Linked DNA regions of Homo sapiens. The protein of the gene in region 4 interacts with the protein of the main gene of each other region in a biochemical or structural test. Each region holds a gene or a part of one and is shown on either strand. Other genes may lie near its edges.

Region 1 (3,839 bases), on a different chromosome or scaffold from region 4:
GCCCTCAGGATGGAAGGAAGGTCTCCCCCAAGGGGATGCCTTCCAGAGGTGGGTGGGTGGTGGCAGGCTGTGTCAGTGGGGTGTCCGTGTGGGTTGGGGAGCAAGAACCAGCTTGCCCCCTTTCACAACCGCCCCCGCCTCTCTCTGTAAAATGTCAGCAAGCTGGGGAAGGGGGCGGAGAGACAGGCAAGCTGTTAACCCGCGAGATGCTGGGGTGTGGGCGGTGCGGGCCCAGGCTCCCAGACAGCTATTTTGGCATGTGCTGAGATGGGCTCATCCCTGGCAGGGGAGAGGCCTCTACGTGGGAGCTCTGAACTGATGCTCTGCCAGGAGCAAGGGGAGGAGGTCTCAGTGTAGATGAGGAGGATGCTGGGGCCCTCCCTCTCCTCTCAGACCTCTCACCATGAGGCACTGGGTACGAGTGAAGCGATCTTCCCTGCCCCAGACCAGCCACCGACCCCTGGGTGGTATGGGGGCTCCTCTGAGCATGTCCATTGGGCTTTAGACTCCCTGCGCCCTTAAAGCAAGGAAAAAGATCAGACTTGTCCTCCACGCCAGACCCAGCCCGGACGCCACATGATGACGGGCTCACAGCCCCAGTCTCTTTACCAAGGGTCTCTCCCAGTCCAGCCTGCTCCCCTGACTTGAGGGATCTTGGTGGCCATTCTCCCTTGGGGGTCCAGGTCAGATTATCTCATGGGTCTCACACCGTTGGCACCGGAGGCAAAGACCTTTCACTAAACCCCATGGAGCACTCAAACCTCTTCTTAGGTCTTCCCAGTTTAGGGATGGCAAATAATAGAAGAAAAGAGTACTCCTAAGTAGAGTGGCCCAATGTCATGAGAAGATCATTGGGCTGGGCTCCAGTGTGAGCTGGGGGATCCTGGCCAGGCCCCTGACCTTTCTGAGCCTTGGTTTTCTTATCTGCAAAATGGGAATCAAACCAACTACAAAGATGTTATGAAGATCACATGAAACTGATGAATTTACAAGCTTCTGGCAGCTGTTAATCACCAAAGACAGAGGAGCTGGAACGCCACTCCTGTCTCTTCAGCCTCTCCCTCCCCTCCGCGGCCACAGAGCCCTTGGTCTCACTCGAACCTGCTTTCCCGACCTAACCACGTCTCTGGTGTTTCAGCGAGGCAGGGGGTGAAGAGGAAAGATGGCAGAATGATAGCTCTTCCAGGGCATTTGGTTAGTTTTGGCCTACCCTCCACACCTGTGACCCAAGTGCCAGCCAAGTCCTGTGCTGAAACCCACACTGCAGGCTGGATGTGGGGCTGACCCCGACACGGAACAGAGGAGAGCCAAGAAGAGCAAGGAATGAGTGCCTGGCACCGCTCAGGGGTGGCCCAGGAACTCGGGGAGCGGAAGAACCTGGCCGCAGGTGTGGCAGATCCCGCTTCCTGCACACACTGCCCCCGCAGCTGACTTAGAGGGCTGTTCAAGGAGGAGGCAGAGGGGGCAGGGAGGAGAGGTGGTCAGCCTGTCCTGGGTCCTGTGATGAGGCCTTAATGAACATGGCCCTGGAAGCCCAGCGCGGGAGTCCCAGATGACCCCGGCTAGCTGCGAGAACTTGGCTGAGTCAAGGCCACCTGGCTGGGCCTGGGCCTCAGGGGACGGGAGGGGTGGGGCCAGGAGGCTAGAGGCACCCACCCAGCCTGCCCTGGGCCGCACTGATTGGCTCCGCCCGGCAGCTAGAGCTGCAGGTAACTTCCAGCGAGTGCCTGTGGGTCCCCGTGGGCCTGTGGACTGGCGGAAGGAGAAGCTCCTCGCCCACCGGCCTCCCACAACGGCAGCTGTCGCCCCCTTGTGTCGCTCCAGAGGCACTGCAGGGCAGCCTCCAGGGGCTGCTTCCACACCTCCCAATTCTCTCCTGCCTTAAAGTGGGTGGAAGGGCTCCGGATCCCTGCTTCTCCGAGGGGCCCGCGCGGCCTAAGACTCAGGGCTAACCTATGACTCCACTTTCACCTCTGCCCCGGGGGGGCCACTGGCGAATTCTGGAGAGGCCTCCAGGGAGCCGAGGAGGGCAGGCCCGTTTCTCTCACTCTCCCCCAGCCCAGCTGCCTGGAGCCTCAGCTTTCTCTCACCAGGGGTCACTTAGTCCTTCCTCTGTCCTTGCCTGAGGGGACACCAACTCTCAAGCTCCTGTGCCAACCGAGAATCCTGGGCAGCTCCACATCCCAGGATCTGACCTTTTTGGAGTATGGCATGGAGACAAAATGACAAGAATTGTCATTCCCTCCCCTGACAGCGTTTGGCACAGAGGGAGACTGTGAGAATTCTACACTGGGTTCCCAGCAGGGGCCAGCTGTATACTCTGGCACCTGACCTTGTGTGGGGAGCAAACACAGTGAGATGAACGCAGCTCGGCCACTGAGGCCCATTTTTCTTTCCCAAACTTGCTGGAACCCAAGGATTCTAGGTTGTCCCTGCCTCTCACAGCAACCTGGGCTGCTCCCAGCATTAGCCCAGGTGAGACAAACCACTCAAAGAGGTTTCCTTTCGCTCCCAGACACCCTGGCACCATAGACAGGGTTCTCACCTCTGCAAAAGAGGCGTCCCTCAACACGTCCCTCCCTATTCATTGCAGAACCAACTCAAACAGGGGCTGCTTCTGCTCAGGCACCCGCTGGGCACCCTCTGCAGCCCTGACTTCAGGGCCATGCTCGCTGGGGCCGTGTGGCAGTGCCTCTAAATGGGACCCATTGTCTCACACTGGTTCTGCAGGTGTGCCTCCTGCCCTCTGGGAGCTTGTGACTTTGAGCACCGTGAAGGGCAGGGGATGGCGGCACAGACGCTCAGGCTCCTAGGGGCTCTGAGGCCAAGGCTCCTTATGTCTACATGTGTGAGGTGCCAGGTAATTTCTGATGCCCCTGGGGTGTAAAACCAGCTAATCCAGAAGCCCTGTGACCTGCCAGGATCAGGCTGCTGAGACCAGGCCAGAGGATAAGCGGGTCCTCCTTCCCGGTGGGTCCTGGAGGAGGAGAGAGAGTCCACTTCTCTCCCACTCCTGGCTGCCCAATCCTTAGGGTCAACAGAAGCTTAAATGGAAAGGTCCTGCCTGCCCTCTGCTCAGGGTAGAGGAAAACTAAATACCCTGGGATCAGAGTAGGGGCCTGTACCTCCTCTCCTCCTCCTCCTCCTCAGGGAGGAGACTGATAGTTCCGGCAAGAAGTAAGGTGGGATGCAGTTGGGGTGGGAGGAATCCACAAGCTGGGGAGAATCATGGCTCACTGAGCTAAAAAAAAAAAAAAAGGGAGATGGCAAGCTGCCACCCCCCGATTCTGAGAGGATGACGCCAGTTGTGTGGGGCAGAGATGGACTTTAAGGAAAAGCCTCTTTCAGCCCCACAGGGGCTGCCATTCAGAGACTGTCCTACCCAGAGGGGCCAGGATGGCAAACATGTGGCCCATGTGCCATCAAGACCCCCTGCCAAGCCCACAGCAGACACTGCTAATTGTTCATGGAACTCTCCCCATGAGCCAGGGCCCGCATGCAGAATTCTCCACCTGGCTTCAGCAGCCACTGCCAACCTAGTTGTTACCCTTGATCTTCCCGTCGGGCCCCTCAACCCCAAGGCTGGATGTGTGTATGTGGGTGGGGTGGGGAGGGGGCGGGATGGGGGACATGGGGTGGATGACTGGGGAGAAGCAAGAGCTAGGTTAAGAGCTAGCATGGAGCTGGGATAAGATGAAGGGCTGGTTTCAGCTGGGGCTTCGAGGACTTTTACCTGAGGCTGCAACAAACAAACAAAGGTAGCAGGACCAGCCAAGCAGCATTGGAGGGGGCAGAACCCAGAGCAGGTGTACTATTCCACCCTTCCACATGTCTGCCCC
Region 2 (3,839 bases), on a different chromosome or scaffold from region 4:
GGGTCCCCCCAGGATGGGGTGCCGGGGCAGGGTTAGCACCTCGATGTTCAGAGGGCAAGAACTTATTGCTGTCCTTGTCAGCTTGGGCCGAAACAGGCCTTGGGGTGGGTGGGTTCAGGACCAGGAGGAAGGCACCCTGGTGTGCTGGCCAGCATGAGCTGAGGCAGAGCTGCTGTGTGTGGAGACCTGCACTCCAGGGGTGACTGAGCAGCAGGCCTGCCCACCAATGTCCCTCCTTGCCCCAGGAGCAGAGCCCAGGCAGCCAGGCCTCACTGGCCACGATGCCGGAGGCACCTGATGTGCTGGAGGAGACCGTGACGGTGGAGGAGGACCCCGGCACACCCACTTCCCATGTGTCTATTGTCACATCCGAAGATGGCACAACCCGGCGCACCGAGACCAAGGTATGGCCAGGCCCAGGCAGTGGGTGGGTGAGCAGGGCCAGGCTGCTGCAGCTGTCCCACCTGCAGAGTGGACATGGAAGCTTGCCACGTGGGGCCTCTCATTGCTCGAGTGGGAAATTAAGGCCAGCCAGACCCCAGCAAAGCAGTTTCTAGGCCTCTCGTGCTACCCCACCTACCTGCCTATCCATCCACCAGGTCACCAAGACTGTCAAGACGGTGACCACTCGGACAGTACGCCAGGTGCCCGTGGGCCCAGATGGACTCCCCCTGCTGGATGGCGGCCCCCCACTAGGCCCTTTTGCAGATGGTGCCCTGGACCGGCATTTCCTGCTGCGTGGTGGTGGCCCAGTGGCCACACTCTCTCGAGCCTACCTCAGCAGTGGGGGTGGCTTTCCCGAAGGCCCCGAGCCCCGGGACAGCCCCAGCTATGGCAGCCTGTCCCGAGGGCTGGGCATGCGGCCCCCACGTGCTGGCCCCCTTGGCCCAGGCCCTGGTGATGGCTGCTTCACACTGCCTGGCCACCGGGAAGCCTTCCCGGTGGGTCCTGAGCCTGGGCCACCAGGTGGCCGCTCCCTGCCCGAGCGCTTCCAGGCAGAGCCGTATGGCTTGGAGGATGACACGCGCAGCCTGGCCGCTGATGACGAGGGTGGCCCTGAGCTGGAGCCTGACTATGGCACGGCCACAAGGAGGAGGCCTGAGTGTGGGCGGGGCCTTCATACCAGGTGAGCTGCACCCCGTCCCCTGTGGCTACCTCCTCTGGGAAGTCTGCCCTCCACCCCCCAACTACAGAGTGCCCCACTTGTCAAGTGGCGCAGTTGAGTTAGTCATGCATGTTAGTTTGAATTGGCCTTGGCTCTCGTCAGGGACAGAAGAAAGGTGGACCCTGGGGTGGTAGGAGTTCGGCTGGGCACTGTCCTGCAGGCCCAGGGCCCAGGAAAGCTGGGAAGAGTGCCGGCCACTGGCCTTGCTCCAGCCACACTCTGGGTAACCAGAACCCAGAGCCCTGGCCCTTGTCACAGCCCCTGGTTCTGTCCCCATTGCCCTCAGTTTCTGCATCTCTGGAGTGGGGATGTGACCACAGCCCGGGTCAGGATTTTGTTGTGTGACCCTGGCCAAGTCACCTGACCGTCACTCCTAGCCTCAGGGCAGGCGGTTTGATGACAGCAACCCACAGGGCTACTGAGAGCTAAGGAGATCTTGTGCCCCAAGGGGCTGGTGGCCTGAATACTCCTCAGGTGGTCCTACTGGGATGGCTTCATGCGGAGAGGGCCATTTACTCCCCCTACATCCTGGCACAGCCAGAGATGGGCCTCATGGAAGATGGGGTGGTTTTGTGGAAGGGAGGTGAGACGGTCTCTCCAGCAGCCATAGCAGATGTCTCACAGAAACTTGTTTTGCTCGGGATTGGGAAACTGCCCGGTGACAGCAGTGAGTGAGTTTGCTGTCCTGGGAGGGTTGCCTGGGTCCTGGTAGCCGCTGGCTGGGGTTTGGCATTTGGCTCTGAATTGGTTCTCACTGGGCTGGTGCATGACTCTCTGTGTCCCCACCATGCTCCGGGCCAAGATACAGGTGCTCTCAGCCCAGCGCTGCTGGGTGAGTTTGCAGTCCTGAAGAAGGTGTGATGGGGCAGCTCAGAGGCAGGGCTGGCGGCTGCTGTGACGATGTCCACGCGCCCCACTTGCCTGTGCAGGGCCTACGAGGACACAGCAGATGATGGCGGCGAGCTGGCGGACGAGCGGCCTGCGTTCCCAATGGTGACGGCGCCCCTGGCCCAGCCTGAACGGGGCAGCATGGGCAGCCTGGACCGGCTGGTGCGGCGCTCGCCCTCAGTGGATAGCGCCCGCAAGGAGCCGCGCTGGCGGGACCCTGAGCTGCCTGAGGTGCTGGCCATGCTGCGGCACCCCGTGGACCCCGTGAAGGCCAATGCGGCCGCCTACCTGCAGCATCTGTGCTTTGAGAACGAGGGTGTCAAGCGGCGTGTACGGCAGTTGCGGGGGCTGCCGCTGCTTGTGGCACTGCTGGACCACCCGCGGGCTGAGGTGCGGCGCCGGGCCTGTGGGGCACTGCGCAACCTCTCCTATGGCCGCGACACTGACAACAAGGCCGCCATCCGGGACTGCGGTGGTGTGCCTGCCCTGGTGCGCCTGCTGAGGGCTGCCCGGGACAACGAGGTCCGTGAGCTTGTCACTGGTGAGTGGGACCTGGCCATGCTCACATCCCCTGGGAAGAGAAGAGTGTGAGGCTCAACCCGGGAGGAACGAGGCCACTCGGCCTGCGACCGCCTGGGAAAGCACCCGGTAGGCAGGAGTGCAGCTGCTGAGACGCTTGCCCCAGGAGCCAGGCATCAGGCCCAGACACTGTGACAGGTTCCCCAGTCTCTACCATAGCAGGGAGGCTGACGCTGCGCCCCTCGGGCATGTCCCCTCACCTCCTGCCTTCACACCTCCTGCCCCCACAGAAACTCTCCTGGGACCCACCTCCTTGGTTCCCACCCCAACCGTGCAGTGGTGGGGCTTGTGCCTTGTGAGAGCTGAGGGACAGGTAGGGTCACCGTGTCTCTGTGAGGCCCTGTGGCCTCAGGAGTGTTAGTGCCACCTGCCACATGGCAGGGAATGGGTGGGACGGGACAGCACTGCCACACCCTCCTCTGCACCTCCTCCCCTTTGGGGCTCCTTCCTAGCTGGAAACCAGTACTGGGTGTCCCCCGGAACCACTCACGGCTTTTGTTACTTCCTACTGTTCTGCATGAGCTGGGACATGAGGAGAGTGGGACAGGTCCTGAGCGTGGCCACCTGGGGAGGTAGGCAGGCGGTGCATATGGTCAGCACAGATTGGCCAATCGCACCCCACAGGCACCCTGTGGAACCTGTCATCCTATGAGCCCCTGAAGATGGTCATCATTGACCATGGCCTGCAGACGCTGACCCACGAGGTGATCGTGCCCCACTCAGGATGGGAGCGTGAGCCCAACGAGGACTCCAAGCCACGGGACGCCGAGTGGACAACTGTCTTCAAGAACACGTCGGGCTGCCTGAGGTGTGGACCAGACCTGGTGCTAAAGCCCACATGCACACCAGGCCCCGTCCTCGTGGTCCCAGATAGTGTGGAAGATGGCGGCGAGCTTAGGAGCGCCAGAGCTTAGGAGCTTCAGAGCTGTGGCACAAGTCCTGTGGATGAGAAGTGGGGCCTGATGGAGCTGTCCTCACCCCCAAGTGGTGTCCCAGTCTTCCCAGGGGCACCCTCTGGAGGGGTCTCTGTGGTACCGTAGCCCTGCCCAGCTCTCACCTACCTTCCCATCACTTGACAGCCAGAGGGGGAGCTGGGACCTTCCTGTTCATCTGCCTGGGAGGCTCATCCCAGCCACCTGTGACCTCTGCCCTTCCCCTCCTACCCCTGGGAGGCCCTGCTGACCCCACAGAGTCCTGGGTCCCCACA
Region 3 (4,621 bases), on a different chromosome or scaffold from region 4:
ATTCAGGCCAAGGGCTTAGTGAAGATGGGGGCCTCAAAACATAAGTTGGGCCTTGAAGTCAGATGTTTCACTGTGGACTTTTGATCTTGGGATTTTTGGCCTTCCATGATATGGGGACAACAGGAATCAAATACCAAGGTCCTAGCGATGCGATAGTGTATAGTAGGAGACCCTCTCCTAAAATGCTTGGATGTCAAAGATTTACATGGTTCAATGGAGGATGAACACATTGCCCCCTTATCTTGTCAGTGGACTGCCAAGAAATTTTGTGCCATATGAACTTAAGAGCTGAATAGAAGGGGGTAAAAGAATACCCCTGAGAAATTTAATCATCAGCCAGCCCTTCCTTTGATTTGCTGCCTAAACTCAGTATCATAGGGAAGTGAATGGATCTAGAAAGCTATCAGAAACTTTGTAAACACACCTGCAGGAGTCTCTACATGGTAAAAGGGAAGTCATTGTCACCATGTCAGAGAAGGGCTCATTGTCTTAGTCATTTAGGGGTATGCTTTTGAGTTTTACTCATTTCTCTCCTCCACATTGCTCCAGGAAGTCCATGAATTATGTCTAAACAAGTTTTAAGTTAAAAAGAAGACCACAGGGGGAATTCTAAAGTGTTTGGGATTGAGTAATAAGAATACCGCATATCAAACTCATGGACAGAGTAAAATGTGCATCTGTAAATATATTTATCAAAAAAGAAAGAATTTAAACACTTGGAAACTGAGCAAAGGAACAAACCCAAAAAGTCTAAAAGGAATTAAATGCATAAGGGCAGAAATGAATAATATATAGAAAAAAACATATATATATAAACTTTGAATGCAGATTAAATGGACAACTTAAACAATCAAAATAATTAAGTATCAAAGTTGATACAAGAAGAAATACATAATTTAATATACAGTAACTTTTTCATAAGTTGAAAAAGTATACAATCTATCGCTCATCTCCTTTTCTGGGATTTTGTCCCCTATGACATTGACACAACGCTAAACCAATAGCAGTAATCCTTTATTGTCATTACACTACCCTGCCTAAAATAAACAGCTTCTCTCAAAAAATATTCAGTACACATTCAGCTGTTGATGTCCAAGAATGCAGGGACTCAAGAACATTCATCCTGCCTTACTTCCACTTACAGATCTATCTCTCTTTCTCTTGGAGATGGAACCAAAATAGCCCAGTTTTTTCTGATATTTTCCACTAAATGATAAACTGACAAGTGCGCAAAAATGAAAATAAAGTGTAAGCCACCAGAGTATGTAGAATCTTTTTATTTAGGGCTTTTCTGGTGGAAAACCATAGTAGGACTGGTTTCTTCTACCTTCTTTTCTGAACATTTTTAAGACCCCATATGTATATCACAAAAATATTCTTCCACATGGAATCTGTGATGTAATATTTAAGAAAAAGAACACCTGTTTAATGGAACAGAATAAAGTGCTACCTTTTTTGGGAGGCAACCGGTTATCCATTTGCATACACGGCTGAAGTTGCTTCTCTTCTTGCTGAAGGGTTTTGCCTCCACCCACTGTGAGTGCAAAACACGTTGATGTCAGCATAATGTAGAGAGGCAACTGACCAAACACTACCCAGTACTCCTCTCTGATTTAAAACCGCTTCCAAGGATAACTTGCTCCATCACAGCAGTGCCCATTCACCTCCATTATGTGCTTCCCTTGATATTTATTTTACTTTTGTGATTGTTTTGGTTGATTAAAAATATATGGAAGACCTGAAAACTACAGAGAACAAACAAATAACCCTGCCAATCCAGAATTCTAAATCCGTGATAATATTCCTCCAAAGTGAGAAATGGAAAGAATTCATTGCCAGTAGACCTGCCCTGTAAGGAACACTAAAAGAAGCCTTTCAGGCAGAAGGAGATTGCTATAGGTCAGAAACTCGGCAGTATGAAAAGAAAGGAAGAATGTCAGAAAAGGAGTAAGCAAAGGTAAAACAAATTCCTTTTTTCCCCCTGTATCTTAATAGAGCTGGAAGATACTATCTGCTTATTGATAAGATCAACTCAAGCAGAGGCTAATCATTCGTTACACGTCCACATGCCCCTGTCCGTATCTTCAGTTTCCGTGGATAGAGCAGCCACTGATGCAAAGCTTTATGGCAGGAAGCTCAGTGGAGAATCAGAATGGAGCAGTCTCCTATCAGGCAACCCCTTACCATCAGAATTCAGCACCAATATGTGCTGGTCAGGTTAGACCTCAGGATTTTACCATATCAGATTATATGATACCTAGTGCCCCAAAGATACCAAAGTCCTGAGATTGGATTTGCAAAATATTTTTGAATAAGCAATTTGTCAACCATCATTATCACACATTGGAACCTCTTCTGGGGCTGCTGTTTATTTCAATACATATATACATACACACCAAATGCACACACAAACCACCCATACGTATGCACCACATACATACATACAACATAAACACATGGTACAAACTCCCCTTATGTTCTCCACACATACACTCCAGACACATAGCAAACCAAACATATAAATACGTTACAATACTGCATCCTCAAAACGGAAGTACAAACTACAAACACCACACACATAACCACACACACACATAAATGATGGGCACAGATGCACCAGGCGTACACAGTGTGCCACACACATTACAGACACAGCACACCACAGCTATACAAGCATCACACACTGTACAACACATACTTCTCTTTCCTTGTGTCCCTGTGAACCTCACACTGATTGCTAAAAATATGTTCTTTTTTCTCTTGTGAAAAGCCTCAGAAGATAGGGCATATTCCACCCCTCCCCACATTTTCCCCTATTGCTAAGTACTTTCAATAATATCTTTGCCAGGGAATGCCCCCTTACGGCCCTCTGGGGAATCAACTGATTGCTCATTTCATTTAATGAGCCCCGTAGACTAACCTGATTCGGGACAAAAAAGTGATTTCTTCTTCCGCTGTGAAGACTTTTCTCTCAACTTTACACAATATTGACTTTCTAGGATTACCAAGTTTAGCCCCATAAATCATTCACCAAATCTTTTGACATCACTGTGTCGAAGTTAAAAGCTTAATTTTTAACTTTACTGTTACCTTTTCCTTAAAGCTTCAGGGAAGGTGTGTGGGTCAAAATCATCCAGTGGACCAGAAACTGGGAATCTGCCAGTAATTTCATGGCATAATAAGCAGACACCCTTAGTCTCTCTCCCTGCCCAGGAGGTAGAGCTTGCCTGCCATAAGTGCTCTCAAGATTTCTCTATTAAGGATGGCTCTGAGTATACAATGCTGTTCTCACAGGAATGTTGTGGCTTTCTAAATGCCCCATAAATGCCATATTAAATTTTTACTCTTAATTCCCTTCCTTCCTTTCTTCCTCCTTTTCTTCCTTTTTTCTTTCTTTCTTCCTTCTCTTTCCCTTCTTCCTTCTCCCTCCTTCCTTGCTTTCCCTCCTTCCCTCACCCTGTCTCCTCCACACTCCTCTCTAAACAGTACATCTGTTTGACATTCAGCATACTCAGAAAGAGGTACATTTTATTGAGGCATGTCCTCTGGAAGGTGTGGCTTCTCTCATGGCTCTTCCTGCAATTACTGTAGGTTCTGGTTCATCCACTTGGTTATAGCAATATCCAGAAACATTAAAAAAAAAACATAGAGAGACAGGATCTCACACTGTCACCCAGGCTGGAGTGCTATGGTGCAATTATAGCTCAGTGCAGACTTGAACTCCTGAGCTCAAGGGATCCTTCCACTTCAGCCCCAAGTAGCTGGGATTACAGGTATGCAACACTGTACCCAGCTAATTGGTAGAGACAGGGTCTTGCTGTGTTGCCCAGGTTGATATCAAACTTCCTGCCACAAGCAATCCTTGTGCCTTGGCCTCCCAAGTGTTGGAATGACAGGCGTGAGCCGTCGTGCCTGGCCCCTAATACTTTTAACTTAGAACTCTTTGAAGGTAATCTACTAATTACTTAAAAATATCCAAGCACTAAAATCAGTGATTTTGCATTATAGGTAATTTATTTCATGCTTAACAAGTTTTTTTTTAATTTTTATCATGCTTTTAAAGTGCTCATTAAATGTTTGGCACATAGCAGATGCTCTGTAAATTCAACCAGTTATTTTTTTCCTCTAAAGAAATGTTGTAAATCTTTAACCCCTTTGCCCAGGAGACTTTGATGTTGTTATTCAGTTAGATTTTTTCTTTTTCAAAAGTCCAGATTCTGCTGGTCCTCTTCTGTGTGTTGCAGAATGTTTGTACTGTCCTGTTTCATGCTGGGCAATTTCTGGCATTTTCTGAAAGAGGAGCCCTTTTAGTGATTGAAACCCCTAGGTCAGCAGTTGTTCAAAGTCCATGTGTTAAATAATAACACTCCCATCTGCCATCAGTATCCCAGTTCTGGATACTGATTACCTGAAGGAGAACCATCTTTCTGTTTGCTGGCCCCAAAGCTTTCTGCTGCTCTGTGAGATTCTTTGAAATTGTTTCTTTTGGATTCTGTGTTTTATGTATTAAATTTTTAAATTTATCATTTTATTATGGAAATGTTTAAGCATACAAAAAAGTAGATCAGTTTAAGATAACTGTGTACATATTCACCCACTTCAATAATTATCAATATTTGGC
Region 4 (3,839 bases):
GGGTGCAGTAACATCCTTTAAGGAGCTACATGTAATAAATATCTGGGTGCATTTTTTTTTTGGATATATGCGATACTGAAACAAATAATTATTTTAAAAATCTGCAAATAAGATTTTCTTCTGTATATTTAATAAAGCAGCAGTTACTAATTTTAAATTTAACATAATTCTCATGTATATGGGCAAAAAAGTGGTAAGAAACTAAAAGAGAGAAAAAGATGAGTTTCAAACACTGACGGCTTGCCTATCCCTAGAAACTATGTATTTTGCCTCCTCTCAAATAGTGGGAAGTTATCAAATTATATATTTTCCGCCAGAATAAAGTGAATTTACTAATATAAGAATTTCAAATAAATCAACTGTAGTAGAAAATTAAATCATTTTGTTATAGCTAACATGAGTATAAAACAGTTTTCACAAGTAATTTTTAATTTACAGATTAAGAAACTGAAATTTAGTGGGGGAAATTCAGTTTTTTTGTTTGTTTGTTTTTGCCACACAAGTAAAAATAGGAAAGCTAGGAAAGGTTGACATATCTTCTAATTTCTAAGTCTATTCTATTTCCCCTACCATAAGGAATGCTGAGAGATTAGTGTGGTGTTGTCTTGATTAATTTCTCTTTATTATTCTAGATAGGCAGGTCTATGGTTTCTATCCGTTTCTAGAAGAGAAAAAAAATGGCAAAAATGAAACACTGGGGTTCCTCCTGTCCTCCACTTGTGATCTTAGGAATGATTCTTAACTTCTCTGAACCTCTTCTTTTTCATCTGTATGGTGGGGATAATGACGATAATATTGCAAGATTTAAATGAGTTAGTACATGTAAAATGTTTAGAATAGTACCTGGCAGAAAGTAAGTGCTCAATAAATGTTAGCTATCCTTATTTCCATTCTTCCTCCTAAACATTTCCCAAAAGTATATAAGTTAATCGATTAGAATGCCTATCCTACATTGGCCCTCCTTTTCCCAGTAATGAACCAGATATTTCTTCCTAACCTGCTACAATCATATAAGAAGGGTGTAGACTCCTTCTTGTTTATATGGGGTCATACAAGGCATAGCCAAAATTTCCTCTGGAGGATGGGTACCTCCTGGAACGAGGTAAAGTATTTCTAGCATCCAATTCCCATTTGGAAGACAGGGGAGAAATAAATGCGCCATTATGATAATTCTAACTAGTTATATAAACGAAAAGCTTCAGTCCAGTGGAGAGTAAAGCGGTCCAAGCCACTGTTCAATGTAAACTCCCTCAAAGCATGGGCTAGAAGCACAGCAAGAAATCCATCACAATCTGGACCACGAGCAGCACTTGCGCGAGAACAAGACCTGCCTGGGACCCAGCTGCAGCATTCTCCTGTTCAAGTGGGGTCTCTCTATTTGCAAGAGAAATATGCCCCATGCCCTAGCAATAGATGAAACTCCAATAAAACAAGACAGACTTACTTTGTGAAATATCTATTAAGTGCATATTATTTTAAAAAGTTGATAGGCTAGAAAGATAAATACGTTAAATGCACTAGCTTTGATGGCATGAAATGAAGGGGTGGAGGCAAAGCAGAAAGGACATGGTTGCAGGTGAGATTTGGAAAGGGGTGGAAAGTTAACGAGGTGGAGGATACAGTTAAGTTGTTCCAGATGGCAGGATCTGACAGAGAAGGCCAGCGAGGGTTAGCAGAATGGATGAGGATGGGGAGACAGGAGAAATGAGGTCCAGCACAGAGAGAGAGAGCATTCTCAACCCAGATGATGATCAGTTCTGAATCATATCACAGAGTGGATGAGGAATCATTAGAGAAGACTGCTGAAGGAACCACAAGGCTAGACACAGACAGATGGGAAAGAGCAAAGTGACCAGAACAGAAAATCCAAGGCCACCAGCAAAGGAGCCATCAGGTTTGGAACACTGATACTGAACTCTGTGATGGATTCAGAATTCCTTGGATTAAAAGATTCTGCAGATGAGAAAAGATGGGAAATATTTTTCCTCTTCCATTAAGACAAAACATTTAAATGTGTTTCTTTAATTAAGATTACACTTAGGAAATGAGTTTCTAAATAGAAGAACTTTTAAACACAGGATGAGTGTCAGAGTTTAAAGGGATTTAGACGTCACCTGAGTAATCCATTAAAAGTTTATCAGACAAACTGTGAGATTGTTCTTGTCAGAGAGAATTGAGAATAAGATTACTGGTTGTCTGAGATGGTTGAGTTTCAGTTCTCTCTGGAAACAAGTCCTAGACGAATGTCTGACCTTCCCTTTCAAGCATAATGATTCCATGATTGGGGTAAGTGTAAGGAACAATGACTGAAAAAATGAGAGTGAGTGTGATCACAACCCAGCCTTTTAATCTTGCTCAGTGCCAGTGGAGAGAGCAATACCCATACATGCCCAGACAGCAGAAAAGGAGAAAAGATACTGAGGTTGGGAGGAGAAATCAGGAAGAAGAGAGGGAGAGAGAAAGAAAGTAGAATGCACAGCAGGGAGCAGTTCCCTGCCAGCCACAGATGTCTCACTTAGACACCCCATTGGGATGAAGGTCAACGGGGCTGCTTATAGTTTGTTAGTGGGAAAGGGACAGGGAGAGTTAATTCTATTTTAGGCCATATGTGTATTTGGGAAGAGAGAGAAAGTGAAGATAAGTAGAAAATAAAATGACACGTAGGCCAGCTATGATGAAAAATGTTGAAGTCTATACTAAAGTGAAGGCAAAGGTTTCCGACATGAGCTTTGAGCCAGTAGAGAAAAGACAGAGAGAGAGGGTGGGTGGCAGCAAAACAATGAAAGGTGCCCAGAGCCGTGCTCCCTGTGGAATGTCAGTAAATATTAATTGGCTGATGTTGGCATTGGTAGGCAGAGTGAAGCTTGTGAAAGAAAAATGCCATTGCCAGTGGAGCACGAAAGTTCAGATCTCGGAGCTCAAAATGGCAGCACCTGAGCAAGCAGCAGAGTCACATCCCATATCACCAGAGAAAGTGATTCTCTGCATATGAGGCCAAACTGTCTCAAGGAAAAGTAATCACACAATCATGACAAGAGAAAAAGAACAAAGTCTGTGGGAGCCATGAAAATATCTCCCCTTCTCTGAGAACATACTCCCTTCCCCTGAGGTATGGTAGCCCCTAGCTGAGAAACCAGGGCTGTCCCAGGTAAACAGCTGTGAAGGTAGGTGCCAAGAAGCCTAGATTTACCCACTCCAGAAAACCCTTTTGTCAGATGTCTCTGGAAACCTCACAAAATGTTATTTTGGGATTTGGCTCTAAGGTTGGGTAATTGGTAGACTCTCATTCTGGAGGAAGAAAAGAACGGCATTGCTTCTTTAGATTTCAATATTAGATGGGAAACGGAATGCTTTTGACGGTGCTTGGTGTTTTCATGAACCAAAGTTCCTCTCATAATGGCAGGCATGGGCCTTTTGGGTAAAGGTTATTTTCTTGCTCTTGTTCTACATTGGTAGGTACCTGATAAGGCAAAATGATTGAAACAGTGGCTTGAAACATTAATAAGAAAATGACTCAATTCCCAAGTCAGAGAAGTGCTAAGTTTACCTGAAATATATTCTACTATAATACTGTGGATCAGTGTCTATGTGGAGTGATCCAAGGACTTGTCTAGAAATACATGTTTTATACATCTTTTAAAATTACATCTGACCTAAAGAAAAAATATTTATTGTTCAATAATATATTCATTTTAAAAATGCTTTTTACACCTATAAATTGTCCCAGCCCAGAATTCTAAGTGCAAAAATGTCAGTGTCTGGCACATAGTAGGTACTTAATCGATATTTGTTAAGTATGTATTAGATATATGAAGAATGTAAGAATCAAGTAAAAATAT
Region 5 (3,839 bases), on a different chromosome or scaffold from region 4:
GGGCCTGGAGAGGGGACTGAGAGCAGAGGTCAGAGGGCATAGGGAGGAGGTGGCATGGGGTGTATTAGAGGAGGGGCTTCTAGAAAAGAGGGTACAGGGACAAGATGGGCCAAGACTTTTCTCCCTCGGGTCTCCTGAAGCTGGCTGTGAGGGGAGGGTCTCGGAGTACCGCGCCAGTCTTGAAGGGGCAGCATGCCTACCCCCTCCTCAAAACTTCCTGTTAGCCGCCTCCTCCCCATCCCCACCGACACTGACATGCTGGGGATCGGGCAATCTGTGGGACTAGGGCTCCCTCCCACCACTCTTCTCCCACCCGGGTTACCGCCTGCTCTGCACCGCGCAGCGCCAGTCAGGGCTTTAGCCAATCAGCAAGGCGGTCACGGCGGCTGAGCCTTCCCATTGGCTGGTTCCTCAGAGGGCGCTCCTCGACTCCCGCCTTCCCCAGCCCGGCCAGGCTTTGGCTGGGGAGGCGGTAGACGGCGGCGTGTAGGACGCTCCGGGAGTCCCCGGGTCTGGGGGCCGCCATGGCAGGCAGCCCAGGCAGCGGGGTCTCCTTGGAGGGTATATCCCTGGAGTCTTCTGAGGAAGCGGAGCTCCAGAGGGAAGGTAGGGAAGGGCGGGCCAGATGGGGGCGGGGCAGCTGGCCCCTTAGCCTACCTTCCTCCAGCAGAGTCGGGGCATCTGGGGAGGGTGGCCTGGGAGAGGTCATCTGAGGGCACCTTCAGGAGAGCTGTCCTGGGCAGAGGGCACCAACTCCCTTGGCTCAGTCCTCCCCTAGATAACGGAGGGAATCTGGCATACCCTGGCAGGAAGGGAAGGGTCCCTGCCCTGGCCTCTTTCAGAGCCCACTGAGGGCCTCGCAGGTCTCTGACCAATGCCAAGCCCCGGCCTGGGCAAGAGGGGTCTGAAGGGCAAGCTTGCACTTTTTTTTCTGGAGAAGGCAGGGAGCAGGAGGAGGAAGGAGATGGGAGTCCAGGAGTCCCTGAACCATCTCTGCCAGCTCCAGTTCCAGTGCCCCCTCCTCCCCACTCCTGTTCCTTCCTGGAGGAGGGGGGCACTGACAAGAGCATTGAGAGGCGCCAGGGGTGCATCCTCCGCCGTCCTCCGTGGCTTGGGTACTGTTATGCAGATGTAGGCATGGGCGGCATGGTGGCAGAGTAATGATACCCTTCGCCCATCTCTGCCCCCAGCTGGGCACATTCTGCTTCTCGCTTCCTTTCCCCGGAACTTGCCACAGCCTGGAACTCCCACCTCTGTCAGTGAGTGAAGGCAGCCCTCACCTCAGGTCTCGGGGGCATTGTTGCGGCCCAGCTGCAGGTGTTATCGTGTCCTCCATTATGTCCCATTTCGGGCTGAGAGTTTGCTTATCCCTGTGATGACTTGGTGTGACCTCAGCCTTTGGGTCACACCAAGGCCTCCAGTGCCTGTTTCCCTAGCTCCTGCCAGCGTTCCAGGCCTCAGCTTTGACTTCCTATCATCCATGTTAATTTCTCAGTGATTATAGATCATTGTCACTCAGAGCTGAAGGCCTGTAAACATCATCTAGCCCAATCCATCCATTTTACAGGCAGGAAAGACTGAGGCCAGTGAGGGACAGTGACTTGTACAATGTCACACTGAATTAGTGGTGCTTAGACTGGAGGCTGCAGGCCCTGGCTCCTGTGTGGCTGCCTGCTTGACTCTGGGCCTGTACTCACGGACTTGCTCCGAGTACTGTCTGTCTCATCCTTGAGCCTGCCAGGTACAGGTGGCTGAGCCCTGGGCTTCAGCCCATCTAGAGGTTGAGTGAGGAGCTTGTGGTTTTCTTTTCTTTTTCTTTTTTTTTTTTTTGAGACGGAGTCTTGCTCTGTCGCCCAGGATGGAGGGCAATGGCAGGATCTCAGCTTACTGCAACCTCCGCCTCCTGGGTTCAAGCGATTTTCCTGCCTCAGCCTCCCGAGTAGCTGGGATTACAGGCGCCTGCCACTACGCCCAGCTAATTTTTTGTATTTTTAGTAGAGACAGGGTTTCCCTGTGTTGGCCAGGCTGGTCTTGAACTCTTGACCTCAGGCAATCCACCCGCTTCGGCCTCCCAAAGTGCTGGGATTACAGGCGTGAGCCACCGCGCCCGGCCAGAGACAGTCTTGCTCTGCCACCCAGGCTGGAGTGCAGTGGCGTGATCTCAGCTCACTGCAATCTCTGCCTCACAGGTTCAAGCAGTTCTCCTGCCTCAGCCTCCTGAGTAGCTAGAATTACAGACCTACACCACTATGCCTGGCTAATTTTGGTATTTTTAGTAGAGATGGGGTTTTGCCTTGTTGCCCAGGCTGGTCTTGAACTCCTGGCCTCAAGTGATCCACCCAACAGCTTGTGGTTTTCTGGTGCAGGGCAGGATCTGCAACCTGACACCTGCTTCCCTTTCTCCCTTCTCTCCACCTCAGAGTCTCTTCCAGCTGCCTGGAGCCTCCCACCTGCTCAGGCTGGCATTACCTAGGGTGGAGAGAACAGGCCAAGGAAATTGTCCCCTTCCTCCAGGATCCCTGTCCCAGGCATTCAAGGGCCTGGGGTGCCTGTGCTGGGCAGGGAGGGGAATGTTGCCGGGGAGGGGCTGCCTTCTGTGGGACATGGGGGTGGGGAAGTGGCAAGTATTGTGGTGTGTTTTGGTCTTCTGTACCCAGCTGGTACCTGTGTATCTCACTGCCCGTACCTTCCCCCAGCCATGCAGCAAGTCCTGGACAACTTGGGATCCCTCCCCAGTGCCACGGGGGCTGCAGAGCTGGACCTGATCTTCCTTCGAGGCATTATGGAAAGTCCCATAGTAAGATCCCTGGCCAAGGTACAGTGCTCCAGGGAGGTGGGCACAAGGGCACTGTGCTTGGGGAGGCACAGTAGGGGATGGGGTATTAGCTACAGAGGGCTTTGGGAATGGGACATGTGGCACAAGAGGCCCCCCTGAAGGGGATTGTAGAAGAAAATCATGCCCAGGTGATGACCTGAGTGGCTGCAGGTAGAGGGGGCTGCCCCCACACCTGTCTGGTGAGTGCGTGGGTGGATGTTTGTTGACTGCCAGCTTGTGGAGTGTGTGATTGGTGCGGGCTAGCATGCACATGTTGGAGAATCTCTAGAATTCATCTTGCCTGTCCTTCTGCCTTTGGGCGTTTTGTGTGTATGTCTTTCTAAGGTCACCTGCCATGTATCAGGTTGGGGAGAGATTGACTAAAAGAGAAAATTATAGGACAATTTGGTAATGACAGTGATAGAGGTGGATACACTATGCATTTTGGGAGCATAAAGGACAGGTGTCTAACCCAGCCTGGGGTGGGTGAGGAGGGCTTCCTGGAGGAAGGACCACTTGAGCTGAGTGGAAGAATGAGGAAGAGGGGGAGGGCATTCTGGGCCACAGAAGAGCTTGAGCAGAAGCACAGAGGTAAGAAAGAGTCAGGAGTGTGCAGGGGATTGGAAGGGCTGGTGTGAGGCTGAGCCTCAAGTGTAAGACAATGCGAGCTGTGCAAAGGTTGGCAGGTCTGGAGGGCACTGGGGGCTGTATGTGGGTGCTTGGGCATCCTTCTGTGAGTATCAGGGAGGCTTTATGGTTTTTTTTGTTTTGTTTTGTTTTGAGAAGGAGTTTTGCTCTTGTTGCCCAGGCTGGAGTGCAATGGCGTGATCTTGGCTCACTGCAACCTCCACCTCCTGAGTTCAAGTGATTCTTCTGCCTCAGTCTCCCGAGTAGCTGGGATTACAGGCATGTGCCACCACGCCCAGCTAATTTTGTAGTTTTAGTAGAGATGGGGTTTCTCCATGTTGGTCAGGCTGGTCTCCAATTCCTGACCTCAGGTGATCTGCCTGCCTCAGCCTTCCAA
Region 6 (4,368 bases), on a different chromosome or scaffold from region 4:
CCTTTGGTCCCTGGGGACCCAGGGCTGTGGCACTTGCCCCGGGCTAGAGGGTCGGCCAGGGCCTGTGTGGTGCCCACTGCTCCCTCCCCTGCACTGCAGGGGACCCTTGCCCATCCCTCTAGCTCATCTGGACCTCCCTCAATGGCTCCTGCTGTCTTTCCAGGCTGTGTCCTCCCGTGTCAGGGACACATCCCAGAGCCCAGGGCCTGCGTGGGCTGTATCCACGGTTACTGAATAGGGACAAACAGGCATGTATTGGCAGGGGCCGGTGGCTCATTTCAGGAAAGTCCCTTCAGCAAGAGGATTCTCTCCCCACTGGGGCTGAGGGTGGTAGAAGAAAGGAATGTTGTTCTATGTTGTAGTGTCTCTGAGATGACCTGGCTTCCTGAACCAGGTCCCCCTGAAGAGCTCCTCCTGTCCACCCCAACAAGAGGCCAGCTGGAGAGCAAGCAAACATCGAGTGCAGCAGGAGACTATAAGGTTAGACAACAAGAAGGACTTCCTGGCAGGGGAGAGCAATGCTTGCTTGGTTAGAGCTGCCTTTCAGTAGAATGGGCTGCTTTGGATTGCAGTGAGGTCGCTGGAGTTGCAAACAGCAGAGCCAGAGATCAAGGTCAAGTGGAAGAAAGCTGGGAAAGGTTCAGTTTGGCTGGTGAAGGGTGGAGAGGGTAAAGGGAGGCAGGGACCACCGTGGTGCAGGGGTGAGGTGCCCTGCAGGGAGCTGATCCTGAGGCCGATGGTGGGAGGAGCTGTGTGTGGTCGGGTGGGACGGGGTGGGGACAGCAGGAGACACTGAGAAGGTGGCATGGCCAGGAGCTAGGGGCTGACCGAGTGTGGGGAGGGGGGAGTGGGGAGGGGGCGTTGGGCTGCCCGATGGGAGGTGCCTTGGCTCCGATGGGAGCACTGGGGAGCAGCAGGTGGGGGGACGAGCTGGGTGGGAGGGGCTGCAGCTTCCCAGCAGAGACAGGGTCTGGGAGGCGACTGGACTCGAAGGCCTGGGCTTGGGAGAGAGGCCCGGGCTGGAGAGGTGGGGAGGGGGATCCAGGAGAGGGGATAACTAAGGACTTGGGAGTAGCTGGCATCACCTGGTGAGACGAGAGTCCTGAACAGCCCCCTCTCCAAGGACAGAAATTTCTCCAAGGAGGCTGACCTGAGAGGTGGGAGGAGAGTGGGGCAGAGGGTCAGGAGGGAGAAACCAGTGGGTGCCAAGACCAGGTCAGCCCCACAGGCTAGGGGGCTTGAGGACTTGGGGCTGATGTCTAGGGACGTCCACGAGGTGGAGCAGCCCAGGAGGCCTGGGTGGGAGGAGGAGGCGGTGGCGGGGAGGGGAGGGAGGGGCTGGGCCTCTGTCCACAGCATTAGTGCTGGTTGGAGGGACGAGGGGGGTGCGGAGCCAGCCAGGCCGCCCTCCCGTTCTCACAGCAGCCGAGCAGAGCGCAGAGCGGGCTGCCATGGCGCTGGCCAGGCCTGGGACCCCGGACCCCCAGGCCCTGGCCTCTGTCCTGCTACTGCTGCTCTGGGCCCCTGCCCTTTCCCTCCTGGCTGGTGAGTTGGGGCCCATGTCTGGAGGGGCCTGGGAGAGGGTCTGTCCCCCAAGACAGATACCCCAAGCCTTGGCTGCTGGGGTGGTGGGTGGGCTGGTCCGCGTGGGTGCAGGCCTGAGCTGTGGGGTGCACAGGAGTGCGCGGCTGTGGCCCCCAGACTCTGTGGGGCTCCACGGAGGTGAGTGTGTTCTGAGGCTCGGGGCTGTTTCATGTTGAGGGGGGTTGTAAGTTTCGGGGTTGGGGGATCGGGGGCTGGGCATGATTTGGGGGAGCTGATGCGGGTGAGGGATGGGGTGCGTGTTTTGGGAGGTGCTGTGTTGCATCCTGTAAAGGGCTGGGGGACTTCTGGGTTTCTAGGGGCTGAGTTTGGGGAGTTGCAGGTGGCATAAGCCTCACCCCAGAGCTTGTTCTGTGTCGCATGCTGGGTTGTGGGGCACAGGTTGTGGGTGTGTTAGAGTTGGGAGGTGGATGAGCTGTCTGGGGTGAGCCGTGAGTTGTGTCCGAGGAGTTGGGTGTGGTGAGCTGTGTCCTAGCACACGCTGTGGGGTGTAGGTTGTCCAGGGTTGAACTAGGTCTTTGCTCTCAACATGAGGGGTGTGGGATGTGCACAGCCGACCCCAACTCGGGACTGAGTGGAGAAGCGTGAGGGAGACTCAGGGAGCTGGGTGCCTGCCCGCACCCCTCCATTTGTGCGGTAGCCCTGCCTGTGCTGAGGGCTGCTGGGGATGCTCTGGGTCCCTGTGGGGTGGCTGGGGATTTGGGAACATGTGTGTGTCCCCTGCTGCCCCCTCCCCAGCATTCCAAGGCCAATCTGAAAGGGCTCCCTGAAGCCAGACCACATTTGCCAAGCCCTTTTTGCTTTTGTCCAAGCTCTCGGAGCCTGGAATTCCTCCTGGGGGGTCCAAGGGAACGCTTGGTGTTAGTTACTATAGTTACAGGGGCCGGGCCTGGGAAGTCCCCTGCCCCCACCACCACAGGCTGGGGAGGGAGCCAAGGAGGGCCTGGGCTCTCCTGAGGCTGGGGGAGCCCTCCCTGCCCCAGAGCTCCACAGGCTGTAGGGTGTGGGGGCCAAGTGTCTCCCAGTCCCACCTGGGGACCCTCATGTTTCCCGCACTCACAAAGCTTTCATTTCCTATCCTCTCTATGGGGCCCTAGGGAGGATGAGGACCCCATTTTGCAGTGAAGGAAACCAAGGCTCAGAGAGGGACGGGGACTTATGAGCTGGGCTCTGCTGGCAGGCGACTTGGGCTCCATAGAGGGGTGGGGCATGGTGGCGGGGGGCGGGGTGGCTGCTCCTCTCTGTTCTCTGCATACAAAGCACGTGAGATCCCGGTCTGTGGATCGGTGCTCTGTCCCCTGCCCTGTGATGCTCACACACCCACACTCCGCACACCTGTGTGGCATGCCCAAGGGCACACAGCACCACAGGGACAGGTGCTACAGACACATGTGGATCTACCAGCACATGCACCTACCTACACACATGGCATGTGCCTGCACACCAATGTGCACACCCCAACACGCACATGTGGACATGTGTGCATTCACACTCAGTGTGCACTCACAGGGGACCTGGAGGCACAGAGTGGATGGAGGCTGTGGGGGGTCTGGACACTGGTGTGTACACTCAACCCATCAGGCCTGCTGGGTTGCCCAGGGGCAGCCTTTCCTCTGCCATTTCTGTGCTGGGAGCGCCATCCCTGGGGATCCCTAAAAGTTGGTGGGGTACACTGCAGGCATGACCATTTCTGCATGCTGGTACCCTAGACTGCCTGCCGGGAGGGGAGGGATTGGGGATTTTGTCACTTGAAAACCAATTTCCATCCTGGAGGGGATGGGGGCTTCTGGAGGCCATGGGCCCCTGGCTTTTCTCCCCACCCCTGCCAGGCCCTGAGCTGGGCCTCTCCATCCTGGGCCCAATTTGCCACAAAGGCCCGGCTGGTTGCCATGGAGAGGACCAAGCATCTTGGAGTACAATGGGGCACGTTGGGCTCTCATATCCACCCTCCCTTCCCCAAACACCCAGGGAGCCCAGCAGACAAAGGGGCAGTGAGTCCAGGCCCCAAGTCCGGCCCCTCCTCCAGCCAGAAGGGGGTGGGGGCCTGCAGGACAGAAGCAGAGATGGAGCAGAAAGCCACACACATTCAACCCAATGTCAGGATCCTTTGGACAGTGGGTGTCTGCCTCAAGTAAAGAATTGTTAATGAGTAAGATCAGCCACTCCATGGCAGGCACTGTGCTATTATTAACGAGGTCTAATTTAATTCTCCCAACAGCCTATGAAGTCAGCTCTGATACCCCTAGTTTACAGAGGAGGTAAACGAGGCCCAGAGATGGCCAGTCCCAGAGCCAGGAAGCCCCAGAGCCAGTGCTGGGATTTCACAGTACACTGTGCTACTTGCCTAGGCAAAGTCACGTCTCTTCTCTGTCTCTACAAAACGAGGACAGACTGGCTTACTCCGAGCGCTGGTATAAGGATTGGAAGAGAATGCAGTGAGCGGTTCCCCACCCCAGGTTTTGGCATGGAACCCCCAATTTCAAGGGAAATTTTAGATGGAAGCCCATGAATAGTTAATAGTAAAATTGTTAAAAGTGGCCTGTTTGGGTGGCAGGTGGGGAACCCCACCTGCTCTGTCTCCCCCTCACTTCAGGAGGTAACTCCCTGGAACTGTGCTCTGAGCCCAAACTCTCAAGGGTTGGTCAGTGCCAGGCACAGGGTAGGTGCTCCGTCCCTGACAGCTATTGTTGCAATTACTGTTATCAAAATTATGTCTTTTAACCTCAGAAGGTAAACATTTTTGAAAAAGAGTATGCCAAATTATTC
Region 7 (3,839 bases), on a different chromosome or scaffold from region 4:
TGCCAGCCAGAGAGGTGAAAGTGAAGAGTCCCCCTCCCACCCTGGGTCTCCTAAGGAAAAGGTCCCACATCATACTGACCAGGATATCAGGGAGATGGCAAAGAAGGGCACTGATGCTGCCAGCTGGAGAGTCCTCCAGTCCCGCAGGGCAAAGGCCAGGCCGCCCAGCGCCGCCTGGCCTGCGCTGAAGGCACATCCCACCACCGTCATGGTGACCGCCCTCCTGCTGGTCGTGGTCCACTCCACCACTGAAGGATGCAGACACGTGCAGGTGAGGCCTCATGCGGCGGCCTGAGCCCCATTCTCTCCTGCCACCCCCGCCCCCATGGCAGGAGCGCGCTGAGCCGGGGACTCACTCAGTGTCAGTGAACTCAGAAAGATGCCGGCCATCCCAAAAGCGGCCACGAACCGCAGGCCGCAGTAGATGACGAATGTTGGGGCGAAGATGGTGCTGGTGCCCGCCACGGCCAACTGCAGGCAGCACCAGCTCAGCATCGGCTTCCTCCCAAACCTGTCACAGGAGAGAAGCACACGGGGCCTGGAGAGGGGCCCCTGAGGACGTGGATATGTGGGCAGGTACTTGCCTTCTGGGAGTTCAACAACGCCAGGGGATCTCTTGCAGCCAGCTCCTCCTTCTTGGAACTTTTAGGGGTACACTCAGAGTGCTTCTGTTATAAAAGTGGCAGGTACCTTGCCATGGGAGGGTGCAGTTCAGTTTCAGTGTTTAAGAACATGGGGTTTGGGGCCAGGCACGGTGGTTCATGCCTGTAATCCCAGCACTTTGGGAGACTGAGGCTGGAGGATCACTTTAGGCCAGGAGTTCAAGACCAGCCTGGGCAACATAGTGAGACCTCAGTCTCTACTAAATAAATAAATAAATAAATAAATAAATAAATAAATAAATAAATAAATTAGCCAGGTGTCTGCGGTCCCAGCTACTTGGGAGGCTGAGGTGGGAGGATGGCTTGAGCCCAGGAGTTCAAGGCTGCAGTGAGGTATGATCACGCCTCTGCACTGCAGGCTGTTCAACAGAATGAGCCTCTGTCTCTAATAAATAAATAAAAAAGAACACAGGTTTGGGCATCAGATGCCTGGGTTTGAGCCCCAGCTCTGTCCTTCCTGGGTGACCCTGGGCATGTGATTCGACATCTCTGAGCCTCAGTTTCCCCATCTGTAACACAAGGGCATCCATAAGGACATGCCTCACAGGGCTGCTATGAGAATCAAGACACTGGGCAAGGGGCCAGGGAGTAAGGAGGCCGAGACTTTGCAATCCACTGCTCTCACCTGTGCGCTGTGAAGGGGGTGCTCATGGGGCGGATGCAGAGCCCTCGGCCCCTGCCCGAGTGCCCTGGGCTGCGGTGGCCTCCAGGCCGGCTGAGTCTGAACCGGAGATTGCATTTAGTGCCACTCAAGCCCGTTCTGCTCAGAACGGAGATGCGAGGCAGACCTTGGCCGCACCTGTCTGAGCAGCACCCAGGAGCAAGGACACTCGCTTCATCCTCACGACAACTGCGTGGGCAGGTGCGAGACCCCACTGCTGGGGGGAAACTGAGGCCCAGAGAAGGGAAGAGATCTCCAGAGAAGGGAAGAGATCTACCTTGTAGGACAAGGCTGGGTGGGATAAGGCTGGGATTCAGACCCAGGTAGTCAGACCCCAGAGCCAGTAGGGTGGTGGCAGGAGGGAGTGGGAAGGCAGTCCTCCATTCATGAAATAATGACTGCGTGTCTGCCACCGTGCTGAGCTGGGCTCTGGAGCACAGTCCCTGGGTCCCTGTGTGCTTGTGGGGACGTGGACAACAAACAAGCCTTGAGCCAGCCAGGCATCGTCAGAGCCAGGCACTGTGATGAGGGAAGCAAGGAGGGGCTGGGACAGTCATGCCTGGGGCCGGGCAGGAGTCTCTGGCTCCGTGGCCTCGGAGGGCCTCCTCAAGGAAGAGCATTGAGTTGCGGCCTGCGTGTGGGCACAAAGCAGCATAGGCAAGAGCTTCTGGGTGAAGCACAGTCACTGAGGCGCTCTGCAGGCGTGCAGGGGGCCCCAGGAGGAGGCTGGTGGAGCTGGGGGTGGATGGAAGCCCAGCGCAGGGCAGGGGGTAGGCAGGAAGGGACTGTCCTCAGTGCAGTGGGGCCCTCGGAGGACTTTGGGCCAGCTTTTATTGACCAGATCAACCTCCGAGATTTTGCAAAGTCACTCAGTGCTGTGGCAGCGTGGACGGCCACTGCAGAGGACACCTGCGAGGGGTTGCAGCCTGCCTGGTGAGAGGAGATGGTGGCTCAGGCAAGGGGATGCTGTGGCAGAGAGGGGCTTGGGCTGAGTGTGTCCTGGAGGAAGAGCCAGGTGAGTGTGGGGGTGAGGAAGGGAGGCCAGGGGACAGCGCAGGCGCAGAAGGGTCCCACAGGTTGGGGGTCTGTGTCCTCCGATGGAGGCTGCTGGGGGAGTGAGGGGGCGTGGCAAGGAATCAGCAGCTCAGCTCCCAGAACAGGAAGAGAGGCAGGAGGGGGAGCGGGAGGAGGGGGAGCAAGAACAGCTTCCTGGGAGGTGGAAGGAAAACCAGGAGTGAGGATGTTCTGGAAGCCAAGAGAAGAAAGTGTGTCACAGAGAACGCTTCTCCCCGCCAGCAGGCCTAGGCTTCAGTGTCACCTGGTACGAGACGTTTCCAGTCCTGCCGGCTGGCCCTGGCGTGCCCATCACCTGTGCCCTGTTCCCCTAACCGGCCTCACGTTCCAAGGTGGCCTGACTTACTTACCTGTGTCCTGAGCCCTGCTTGGCTCCAAGCTGGGGAAGAGCAGACACTTGTCTCCCACCCTCCCCACCGCCCCTTCCCCCATTTCTGCTGAGGCATCCCTTGCACCTGGCTAGTGTTTGGCCCACGTGAGGCTTCTGGAAAGGCCTTGAGACTGGGGGACAAAGGACAGAGGAGAGGAGGATGGGGAGCCAGGACAACTTTGAGGCACAGGGTCCAAGCACGGCCGCATGGAGGAGGCCTATGACCATCTGGCAGGAGTATGGGAGAGGAAATGGGGGCGGTGGGGGATGGCCTGGGGTGGCCTCCCTGTGAGGGGAACCAGGCCAGGGTCTGGGGGGCCTTGCTGAGATGGGGACCCGGAACAGCCTGTGGGTTGGTTCGGATGGCCAGGGGAGGGAAGAAACAGAGGAGGCAGGAGGGAGACGGAAGCAGGGATGGGGTGTTTGCCTGACATTTCTGAACCTTCTGCCCCATAGTCTTCAACAATGTTTTGAGGGAGCTGGGGGCTGGGAGGAGCGGAGGCACTCACCGGTAGGAGAGGAGGCCCCAGATAAAGGAGCCCACCAGGATCCCGGACATGAAGATGGACTGGCTTAGGGGCTTCAAGCCCTGGGAGCTGCACACCAGGTCCCACTGCAAGAGGAGGGTGCAGTGGCTCAGCTCGGGGGGTATGAAATCACAGGGCTGGGCACGGCCGAGGAACGCCTGACCCACACTGGGGTCCCTGGACTCCCAGTGCCAGGTCACAGAGGTAGAGAGGACCTGCTGGCCATGGGGCTGCAACTCCCCATGGGAAGCTCAGCTGCAGGACAGAATGTGACCTGGCTCTGCGTCTGCCAGCTGTGTGGAGGCCACTCCACGGGGTCCAGTGGCCCCCCTCATGCAGAGGACAGACTCTGACAGGCAGCAGGGCCTTGAAGGGGCAGAAGTGGTAGAAAAATGAACAATTTCTTGGTAAAAAGAACTTTGGCAGGCAATGTGTGGCTGTGTCTGGCAGTACCTGGCAGTGGTGGGCTGTGAGGTGGCAGGCAAGGTGGGCAGTGGGAGGCAGGGGCAGGGAGTGGCTGGCAGGGGTGAAACCATAGGCTTGGC

Evidence for each region.
Region 1: the proteins of GRIP1 (region 4) and DGKZ interact in a test that uses a peptide from one of them, tested with the Homo sapiens proteins (one large-scale study listed by IntAct).
Region 2: the proteins of GRIP1 (region 4) and ARVCF interact in a test that uses a peptide from one of them, tested with the Homo sapiens proteins (one large-scale study listed by IntAct).
Region 3: the proteins of GRIP1 (region 4) and SLC17A1 interact in a test that uses a peptide from one of them, tested with the Homo sapiens proteins (one large-scale study listed by IntAct).
Region 5: the proteins of GRIP1 (region 4) and MPP2 interact in a test that uses a peptide from one of them, tested with the Homo sapiens proteins (one large-scale study listed by IntAct).
Region 6: the proteins of GRIP1 (region 4) and CRB2 interact in a test that uses a peptide from one of them, tested with the Homo sapiens proteins (one large-scale study listed by IntAct).
Region 7: the proteins of GRIP1 (region 4) and SLC22A11 interact in a test that uses a peptide from one of them, tested with the Homo sapiens proteins (one large-scale study listed by IntAct).

Annotation. Positions count from the first base shown.
Region 1 is NC_000011.10:46,350,275-46,354,113, reverse strand, and holds part of DGKZ (diacylglycerol kinase zeta), read right to left. Parts: intron 1-3,839. UniProt on the Homo sapiens protein: Diacylglycerol kinase that converts diacylglycerol/DAG into phosphatidic acid/phosphatidate/PA and regulates the respective levels of these two bioactive lipids.
Region 2 is NC_000022.11:19,978,498-19,982,336, reverse strand, and holds part of ARVCF (splicing regulator ARVCF), read left to right. Parts: intron 1-245; coding exon 246-404; intron 405-599; coding exon 600-1,126; intron 1,127-2,094; coding exon 2,095-2,594; intron 2,595-2,644; exon of another isoform or gene 2,645-2,945; intron 2,946-3,256; coding exon 3,257-3,440; intron 3,441-3,839. UniProt on the Homo sapiens protein: Contributes to the regulation of alternative splicing of pre-mRNAs.
Region 3 is NC_000006.12:25,829,074-25,833,694, forward strand, and holds the start of SLC17A1 (sodium-dependent phosphate transport protein 1), read right to left. Parts: upstream 2,980-4,621; 5' UTR 2,921-2,979; intron 1,535-2,920; 5' UTR 1,485-1,534; coding exon 1,451-1,484; intron 1-1,450. UniProt on the Homo sapiens protein: Important for the resorption of phosphate by the kidney. May be involved in actively transporting phosphate into cells via Na(+) cotransport in the renal brush border membrane. Plays a role in urate transport in the kidney.
Region 4 is NC_000012.12:66,672,440-66,676,278, forward strand, and holds part of GRIP1 (glutamate receptor-interacting protein 1), read right to left. Parts: intron 1-3,839. UniProt on the Homo sapiens protein: May play a role as a localized scaffold for the assembly of a multiprotein signaling complex and as mediator of the trafficking of its binding partners at specific subcellular location in neurons.
Region 5 is NC_000017.11:43,897,238-43,901,076, reverse strand, and holds part of MPP2 (MAGUK p55 subfamily member 2), read left to right. Parts: intron 1-452; exon of another isoform or gene 453-524; coding exon of another isoform or gene 525-606; intron 607-2,696; coding exon 2,697-2,815; intron 2,816-3,839. UniProt on the Homo sapiens protein: Postsynaptic MAGUK scaffold protein that links CADM1 cell adhesion molecules to core components of the postsynaptic density. In CA1 pyramidal neurons, required for synaptic KCNN2-containing channel function and long-term potentiation expression.
Region 6 is NC_000009.12:123,354,810-123,359,177, forward strand, and holds the start of CRB2 (protein crumbs homolog 2 precursor), read left to right. Parts: upstream 1-1,387; 5' UTR 1,388-1,451; coding exon 1,452-1,545; intron 1,546-4,368. UniProt on the Homo sapiens protein: Apical polarity protein that plays a central role during the epithelial-to-mesenchymal transition (EMT) at gastrulation, when newly specified mesodermal cells move inside the embryo.
Region 7 is NC_000011.10:64,558,676-64,562,514, reverse strand, and holds part of SLC22A11 (solute carrier family 22 member 11), read right to left. Parts: intron 3,381-3,839; coding exon 3,277-3,380; intron 512-3,276; coding exon 357-511; intron 249-356; coding exon 80-248; intron 1-79. UniProt on the Homo sapiens protein: Antiporter that mediates the transport of conjugated steroids and other specific organic anions at the basal membrane of syncytiotrophoblast and at the apical membrane of proximal tubule epithelial cells, in exchange for anionic compounds.